2 separate regions of the Homo sapiens genome follow, and region 1 is reported to be linked to region 2. Evidence: microRNA targets listed by miRTarBase, many of them from high-throughput screens and not tested one by one. Region 2 holds a microRNA gene; the other region holds the end of a gene's coding sequence.

The links. Region 2 holds the annotated microRNA hsa-miR-548aa (AAAAACCACAAUUACUUUUGCACCA, at 2,483-2,507, shown strand). A microRNA usually pairs through its seed, bases 2 to 8, with sites in the 3' UTR of a target mRNA and lowers its output. Matches are read on the target gene's strand: a 7mer-m8 pairs with bases 2 to 8, a 7mer-A1 pairs with bases 2 to 7 and ends in A, and an 8mer does both.
Region 1: miRTarBase lists ZCCHC9 as a target of hsa-miR-548aa. Seed matches in the 3' UTR shown: 7mer-m8 at 3,076-3,082.

What each region holds. Positions count from the first base shown.
Region 1 is chr5:81,312,359-81,316,358 of GRCh38, reverse strand. It overlaps ZCCHC9 (zinc finger CCHC-type containing 9), which reads right to left. Exons shown (of 6, transcript NM_001131035.2): 6 at 3,062-3,815. The coding sequence ends at 3,697. It also overlaps a transcript of ACOT12 not described here. Among named protein-coding and RNA genes, the nearest start is that of ZCCHC9, 13 kb to the right of the region's middle.
Region 2 is chr8:123,345,606-123,350,055 of GRCh38, forward strand. MIR548AA1 (microRNA 548aa-1) reads left to right here and starts at 2,429; the gene lies at 2,429-2,525. ATAD2 (ATPase family AAA domain containing 2) reads right to left here. Exons shown (of 28, transcript NM_014109.4): 14 at 3,680-3,839; 15 at 2,578-2,668; 16 at 1,487-1,801; 17 at 1,013-1,145; 18 at 481-667. It overlaps MIR548D1 (microRNA 548d-1), which reads right to left and starts at 2,525; the gene lies at 2,429-2,525.

The sequences.
Region 1 (4,000 bases), not on the chromosome of region 2:
AGAGACAGAAGGTAAATTAGTAGATGCCAGTAGCTGGGGGAAGGAAGGGATAGGGAGCAACTGCTTAAGGGTATTGGCTGTTGATGGGGTGATAACATGTCCTGGAATTAATGGCGATGGTTGTACAACTCTGACTAGATTAAAAGCCAGTTAGTTGTACACTTTAAAAGTGTGAATTTTATCGTATGTGAATTATATCTCAATAAAGCTGTTAGGGGAATAAAACCAAAACTTTCCCATGGCTTCCTAAATTTTCCAGTGTGATACTGCCCCCACCACCTCTCTGACTTCGTCAAATGATAAATACATATTATGGGCCTACTATGTGCTAAGTACTGTTTTAGGCATTTGGGGTATATCAGTGAACAGACAAGAATCCACCCCCCGTGGAGATTATATTCTAGCAGAGAGATGGGACAAAAACGACACATATAATAAATAACTTAATATGGTAGAAGGTGATAAATGACACAGAAAAACATAAAGCAAAGTAAGGGGAACCAGGAGTGCCAGTGTTAGGATGGAGATGTAGATTCTGTTTTAAATAGGGTGGTCAGAATAGCCCTGATGTGGCCCTTCTCTAGGCTTCAGCTACACTCCTTTCTGTCCCTCACATATGGCAAACTCATTCTCTCTTTAGGGGTTTTGGCTAACTCAAGACTGGTTCCTTTGTGTCATTCAGATTTCAGCTTTAAAATTTCCACAGAGGCCTCCTCTTGATTATCCAATCTAAGAGCTACCCAGTCACTTGCATCATCTCTCTGTTGATTCCTTTTATATCACTCATTGAATTAACTCATTCAACAAATGCAAATGCTTCATACATTCCAAGCATTTCTAGGGATATAGCAATGAACAAGAATCAAAATTCCTGCCCTCGTGTAACCTATAATCTGGTAGAGAGGGAACAAATAGAGCTATAGTGTTAGGTATTGGGATGAGGAAGCAAGGAGCTGCTCTTTCCTATAAGGATGGTCATAGAAAGACTCAAGCTGGTCATAGCAGATGCCTGAAGGAAATAAGCAGGGATGGGGGGCTGGCCATGGGGACTGGAGGGAATGTCAAGTAAAGAGCAACTTGAGATTCAGGCCTCATGGCTTGGAACATAATTGTAGTGAAAAAAGAGACAAAAAGGTAAACTCACTTTTTCCCCAGGGGAAAGTGAGTCTGTTTAAAGCCATATTGAATTTGAAGTATTAGTGGAGCATCCCAGTAGGAACATTCAGGAGGCAGGTGAAAAGACGGGACTGAAACCTGGGATTTTAGGGCTAGCTGGAGATTTAGGAATCATTTATGGAAAAGTGAAAGATAAGTTTGTAAGAAGAGATGAAATTTACAAAAGACCGAAGGAGCACTAAAGACTAAGTCTTAGGGGATTCAGCTGGGTGTAGTGGCTCATGCCTATTGTAATCCCAGCAACTCAGGAGGCTGAGGCGGGAGGATCGCTGGAGCCCAGGTGTTTGAGGCTTCAGTGAGCTACGATTGCATCACTGCACTCCAGCCTGGGTGACAGGGTAAGACCCCATCTTAAAAATTTTTTAAAGTCTCAGGGGATTCAAAAAATATTTTAGGAATGTAATAAAACATTTCTTGCTGGTATTTTCCCTAAGTCTCCTGTCCATTATTCAGCCCCATTATAATGCATGTGGTCTTGTCTGTCTTGCTGACTGCCACAATTTCAAGTGCATAAGAGTAACAGGAACATAGTAGTGCTTGGGAAATATATAAGATGAATGAATAAATTGTTTGCCTTCCTCTTTAGGCATTTTTAGCTAAGAAAATAACCAACGTCTATAGTTCCTTTTAATGAACACTCAGGATCTCTCAGGATTTCTGCCTCTGGTGCATTCCTTTTAGTGTCTCTACACGTGTTTAATGTTACATTCAGTACCTGCAGTTTATTTCTAATGACTTCACTGCCTAATATTTATAGATCATTAAAATATAAACAAAGTAGGCCGGGCATGGTGGCTCAAGCCTGTAATCCCAGCACTTTGGGAGGCCGAGGCGAGCAGATCACGAGGTCAAGATTTCGAGACCAGCCTGGCCAACATGGTGAAACCCCATCTCTAGTAAAAATGCAAAAATTAGCGGGGTGTGGTGGTGCGTGCCTATAATCCCAGCTACTCAGGAGGCTGAGGCAGGAGAATCGCTTGAAGCCAAGAGGCAAAGGTTGCAGTAAGCCAAGATTGTGCCACTGCACTCTAGCCTGGGTGACAGAGTGAGCTATCAAAAAAAAAATTATACACACACACACACACAAAAAGTAATCCAAAAAAGACAAAGTGGATACCAACATTCTTGCACTGAAGACTACAAAAAGCATTAGACCTAACTTTCAGCTGACAGGCTGTAGACTCTGCTCCTGATGGGACAGGTGAAATAAATCTGGGTGCGTTCGGACTAGATGACTAAGGCAGCATTACTGTCCTTTTCCAACTGCCTGGCTTGTGCAATTCCTTCTAAATAGCACTCATTTCCTTAAGCTCTGGGATGCTGAGCAGTATTTTGTCATGTTTTCCTCTCACACTGAAATAAAAGAACAGCTCCTATTAAGACTAGAACTGTCGAGTTGTGCAGAGATGAAAACAGAGAAAAGTGTTTCTTTTCTTATTTGGTAAATATTTTGCTTTTGAGGCATCAGTAACTAATCACAGCTGTTTCCTTTAGTTACAAATGGATTCAATCAGGTAAAATTTCAAATGAAACACAAAACCACTAGAGTCATTCCATTATACAGTACAATGGTAGTGTTAAGCCTTGTGAAATATATGTATTAAGTATGCATGAATTCATCAAATCAAACAAAGAAGCTAATGGGTCTCTGATTAGTGTTCTAACTCTATTATGGTGATACTTCCATCTTACTCTGACTCATCTAAAACATGAGAACAAAATGCTATTAAGTTTATTATACCATCTGTTATCTGCCATCATTCTGGTTAAGTAACAAAAACTGAATTTTGGCTAGAAGTTCTCTCTTGAAAATCAAGGGCAAAAAAGAGCTGCTGTTAAACTGAGATATTTCAATTTTAACTTCAGTAACTTGGAATCCTTTATGTCAAAACTAAAACAAAAACCAAATCCCTGTTTATTCTCATCTAGGATTCAAAAAAAATCTTGTTTCCAATGGGATTGTTACATGGATATTAACGAACAATGGATATTTCAATCGAGAATCAAGTATTCAGAAAAATTATACACAAAAATATTTCTATTGCTTAATAGAAAACATATTTTTATTCCGTACTTTAAAAATATAGACTTTCTAGCAACTTATAAATTTCTATTATAATAATAAATTGATACTTTGAGCCAAGAAAACAATATAACCAAAAATTCATTTGTTCCCTTTGTTTAGGGGTGTTTTACATTTATGCATAATTTTGCTTTTATAAAAGATGATTGTTACAATCAGGTATACAACTACTTGGTTATGTCTAAGTTCTGTCTCTTAAAATATGTTCTTTTAGAGAATTCATTTAATCATCTTATTCTTTTCTTCAATTTTCTCCAAACAGTGGTAGAAGTACTATTTGATAGACAGAATAAAGAAAATTGTTTTTGGCCACACCCAGATCATACTGATATCTACAGCATAGTCCTGGCTACAGGGGAGCTCAACTCTAACTCGTGAAGCGGGCCTGGTTTAGAAAGTAACAATGAGGTAGTAACTCATGATAGTGCTAGCTGTTATCAAAAATTAACAACTTTAGGTATTTTTGTTTTGGGTTTTTGCGGTTTAGGTACATCCAAAATTTCTTCATAGTCTGCACTCATTCCCTTTGCCCAGCGACCAACTGTGACCATTCGCTCTGTAAAGGAATAGAAAAATCAGAATGTTAGAAAAACAGTAATCAAATGCATCCACTCAGATTGTTATTGGTTTGGGAAAGGAACTCATTTTGATATGAATAATCACAAGGAGGGAAGACTCCATCACTAAAGGAAAGTGAGCAATTCTGTAATTGATTATAACCCTTGATTTCAGAGTACCACA
Region 2 (4,450 bases):
CGGAAGGCGGAGGTTGCAGGGAGCCAGGATCGTGCCACTGCACTCCAGCCTGGTGACACAGTAAGACTCCGTCTCAAAAAAACCAAAACCAAAAACAAACAAAAAAAAGTTAATATACAAATACCAAAAACAGAAACTGCAGAATATCTGAGTACTTACTAAGGAGCAGTCACCATTTTAAGTACTTTACTCATTTAATTCTCACAACAGCCATGTGAGGTAAGTAGTATTATCTCCATTTTCCAAAAGGGGAAAATTAGAGAGATCTAACAACTTTACTAAGGTCACAAAGATATTAAGGGTGAATGTGGGATTTAAAGTCATTCTCTTTAATGACTAAGCAATCATGCATAACTCTGTTTTGTAAACCTAAAGTTACAAATCAGAAAGACAAAAAAACACAATACAAAAAAATGGGGCAATTTTAGCTTTTGCCTCTGAAAGCCTGTTTTGTCTTATACTTGGGCACCAACAAATTACCTGGGCACATGTTTCTTCAGGGGATGTAGTACTAACTCCAAAAAGAACAGGAATGTCTAATGTATATACAGTAAACTTTTCCAAAGCATGAATGACAGCTGGTGCCAAGTGAGAACCTTGCCCAAATCCTGGTTCTCCTACTATCAATATTCTTGGTCGAAAAGACATAGGTTGGTAACAAGCATTTCTGAAAGAGAAATGATTAATAAGCTATGTTTTAGAAAAAACAGTTTAAATTTTCCCCCTAAATTGTCAACTATAAACTTTCATAAGTAAAAAGTCTTGCCAATAAGGCCAACCAATCATAACATGGTTCACATAGTTTCTGGAAACTGACCCCCAAAGGTTTTTAGGAATATTTTTATAGACTGTAATTTCTACTGTTGTGACAACTGTAACAACAAAAAATTTCTGGTAGTTTAATTTAAATAAAAAGCAGATTGGTTAGCACTTTTTATTTTTTCAACCACATCTCATTTATTTTTAGAAAATTTACACATGCAAAAAACATTGATTTGCAAGAAAAATATACCTATTCAAATGAAGAAAATTAAAATTGTCTTTTGCCTTATGAGAAGATTTCTGAGAAAGTCCATTTTCATAAACTGATGGAACATCATCATCACTGTAAGCCAAGTCACTTTCTAGCAGAGGACAAGAAATATCTATAAAACCAAAAAATTGTACATTAGTAACTTTTGGATTGCAAAGCAAATCTTTATTGCTTCAGTTACCAAGTCAGCATACTTCAATTAAATTTTTTCAAAGAATCAAAAATATTTGTGTAGATATGAATTAATAAGTAAATGTAAAAATGCACCCCAAACTTACAATAAGTTAAATTAAGGGCAATCCATGGAGTAAATTTCCTTCAAATATCCCAGGTAAAGCATTACCAAATTCTTTTCAAGAGATTCTTTTACAAATAAATATTTCTGGTATGTATGAAACATTTCACTTTACTGATTATAAAAACTAACTTTAAATGGTCAATCAAGTTTTATACCTGAGTCTAATGTTTTATTTGTTCTGAATTCTGCATGTGGAAATACTCTCTGCAGGGCTTCTAAAATCTTGTCAACAGTGTTTTGCAGGAGTGGTTTCACAACGGTGGACAGTGCCTGCCCAGGTGATGTCACAGCTCTTTGGGAGGCTGGTATCATCTTTTGCATAGCTACCTCGAAATCCTTAGCTGAGATATTAATTGAAGAGAGATCCAACTGCAGTTTCTCACTAGTGGTATAGATCTGTGGGTAGCGTCGTCGTAAAGCACATAAAGCAGCTTCAGCACATATTGATTTAATATCTGCTCCACAGTATCCTATCCAAAGCAACCAGGGGAAGAAAAGAACCAGCCGACCAAACAAAGAAACACAAAACTCTATTAGCATGACCATGGTTAAAAAAAAAATTAAAAATCAGCCTCGGAATATAGTTAGCAAATATTTAAGAGTAATAAGACCAAAATCTCTTTTACCCAGTAAACTTATAGGGTAGTAATGGCCATCAACAATCAATCAACTTTTAAGAGTGCAATACACAAGCACTAAGTATAGCACAGAGGTCAAAAGCAAGAGTTTTAAAATCACACAGACTAGATTCACATTCCAGTTTGTAATTTACTAGCTGTATGACCTTAGAAGATTCACATAATGCTCTCCAGCCATTTCTTCATCTGTAGAGATACTGCTACCTACATCACAGGAATGATGTGAAAATTACATGAAATAATATATGTAAAATGCTTAAAAGGATGACTACAAAATGGTCAGTAAAGAATAGCTATTATCTTATTATGATATAATAATATATTGTATTTTGTACAATTATATTATTATCTACTCTGCCCCTGATGGCCAATTTGTCAAATATCTCTATTTAATACCAAGACTTCATGAGAAGAAAATGCCACAAATAAGAGATAAGAAACAAATATAACCTTGTATTTCTTTATTAGTCTGGTGCAAAAGAAACTGTGGTTTTTGCCATTACTTTTACAGGCAAAAACCACAATTACTTTTGCACCAACCTAATATAACTTGTTTCATATTTGAAATAAATGTAGTATTTATTTTAACTGCTTAAAACAATGTTTACCAACACAGTTTTCTGCTAGCTCTTCTAAAAATGTGTCCAGTGGTTTGGGATTCCAATCCCTGGTGTGAATCTTTAGAATCTCTTTTCGAGCCTATGAATAAAAACAATTTAATTTTTTACAACTATAATAATAAATGCTATTCAGATTACATTAATTTTGATTAAAATACTTTTGATTATCTAAAATTTTAAAGTGATCAGTACTTAATACTGGCCGGGTGCGGTGGCTCACACCTGTAATCCCAGCACTTTGGGAGGCCGAGGCAGGTGGATCACTTGAGGTTGGAAGTTCAAGACCAGCCTGGCCAACATGGTGAAAACCACTCTCTACTAAAAATACAAAGATTAGCTGGGCGTGGTAGCATGTGCCTGTAATCCCAGCTACTTGGGAGTCTGAGGCACGAGAATTGCTTGAATCCCGGGGACGGAAGTTGCAGTGAGCTGAGATTGTGCCACTGCACCCCAGCCTGGGTGACAGAGCAAGACTTTATCATAAACAACCAACCAAAAAAACTCAATATAAGCAAAATATGAAAGTGAAAATAAGAAAAAGGATGTACTTTTAAGAGTTTAATGAACTTAAGTCTCATTATTAAACATATTTGCATTTATAGCACTAAAGTTATATTCGTCATAAACACAAATAAGAGAAAAGTAACTACTAAAGTAGCTATTCATTCTGGTGCATATTAAGAGCTGTTTTTAAGAGTACAGACAGCTCTTGACATATTTTCCTCTTTGGTTCCCAGAAGATTAAGTAGACTTAAAAAAACTCGGTAGGATTATATGATGATATTCATGAAAAAGACAAGGCTAACAAACTGGCTAAGGATTGATTACTCATTAAGCCATATGTTCTGAAGCAACACTTAGAACATCCAAAGGCTACACTCAAATTGAAATAATTTTAAGAGTAATTTTGGGAAGGCATTATTATATTTAAAGAAAAGAATAAAAATTTGTCCCCATTTGAGTTGTTTACTATCATTTGACAAGACCATGATACAAAACTCAAGAATCTCCAAATTTTTACTATACCAAGACTTATTATTAATAAACAGCAATATATTTTGTCAAAATTTGAGTGACATTAAATTCTTACCTCTTTATCAGGCAGGCTAAAGAGGAATTCTCTATCAAAGCGACCAGGCCTTCGTAAAGCAGGATCTATAGAATCTAGCCTGTTCGTAGCACCAATGACCACAATTTCCCCTCTGCTGTCCAATCCATCCATAAGAGCTAGCAGGGTGGAAACAATAGAACTAAATTTTAAAAATAAGAGAGAAGAGATTAATACTATGAACACAGTCTATATCATTCAGTAATATTTCTTCTTTTGTAAGATTTAACGCATTACATGTGAATAAATTTTCTCAGGGCACCTCACTATTTCCAATGGATTAAAAAAATCTATAAAATAACATCCCAAATGGCCCACAGAAATTGAAATCAATGGAAAACAGACGGTTGTTAGACCCCCCACAAATGAATCCTAGAAGACATTTTATAAAGCATAATTTCACAAAGGAACTTAAGAGTTCTCAAACAATATATAACATCAAAAAGAAAAAAAAGGCAAGGCATGGTGGCTCACGCCTGTAACCCCAGAACTTGGGGGCTGAGGTGGGAAGAGTACTCGAGGCCAGGAGTTTGAGACCAGCCTGGGCAACATAGGGAAACCCCATCTCTATTAAAAAAAAAAAAAAAAATTAGCCAGCATGGTGACATGACCTGTGCCTGTAGTCCTACTACTTGGGAAGCTGAGGTTGTACGTAGTGAGCCAAGATTGCACCACTGCATTCCAGCCTGGGTGACAGAGCAAGACCTTGTCTCAAAAAAATAAAAAAGAAAAGAAAAAGAAAAAAAGTGCTGG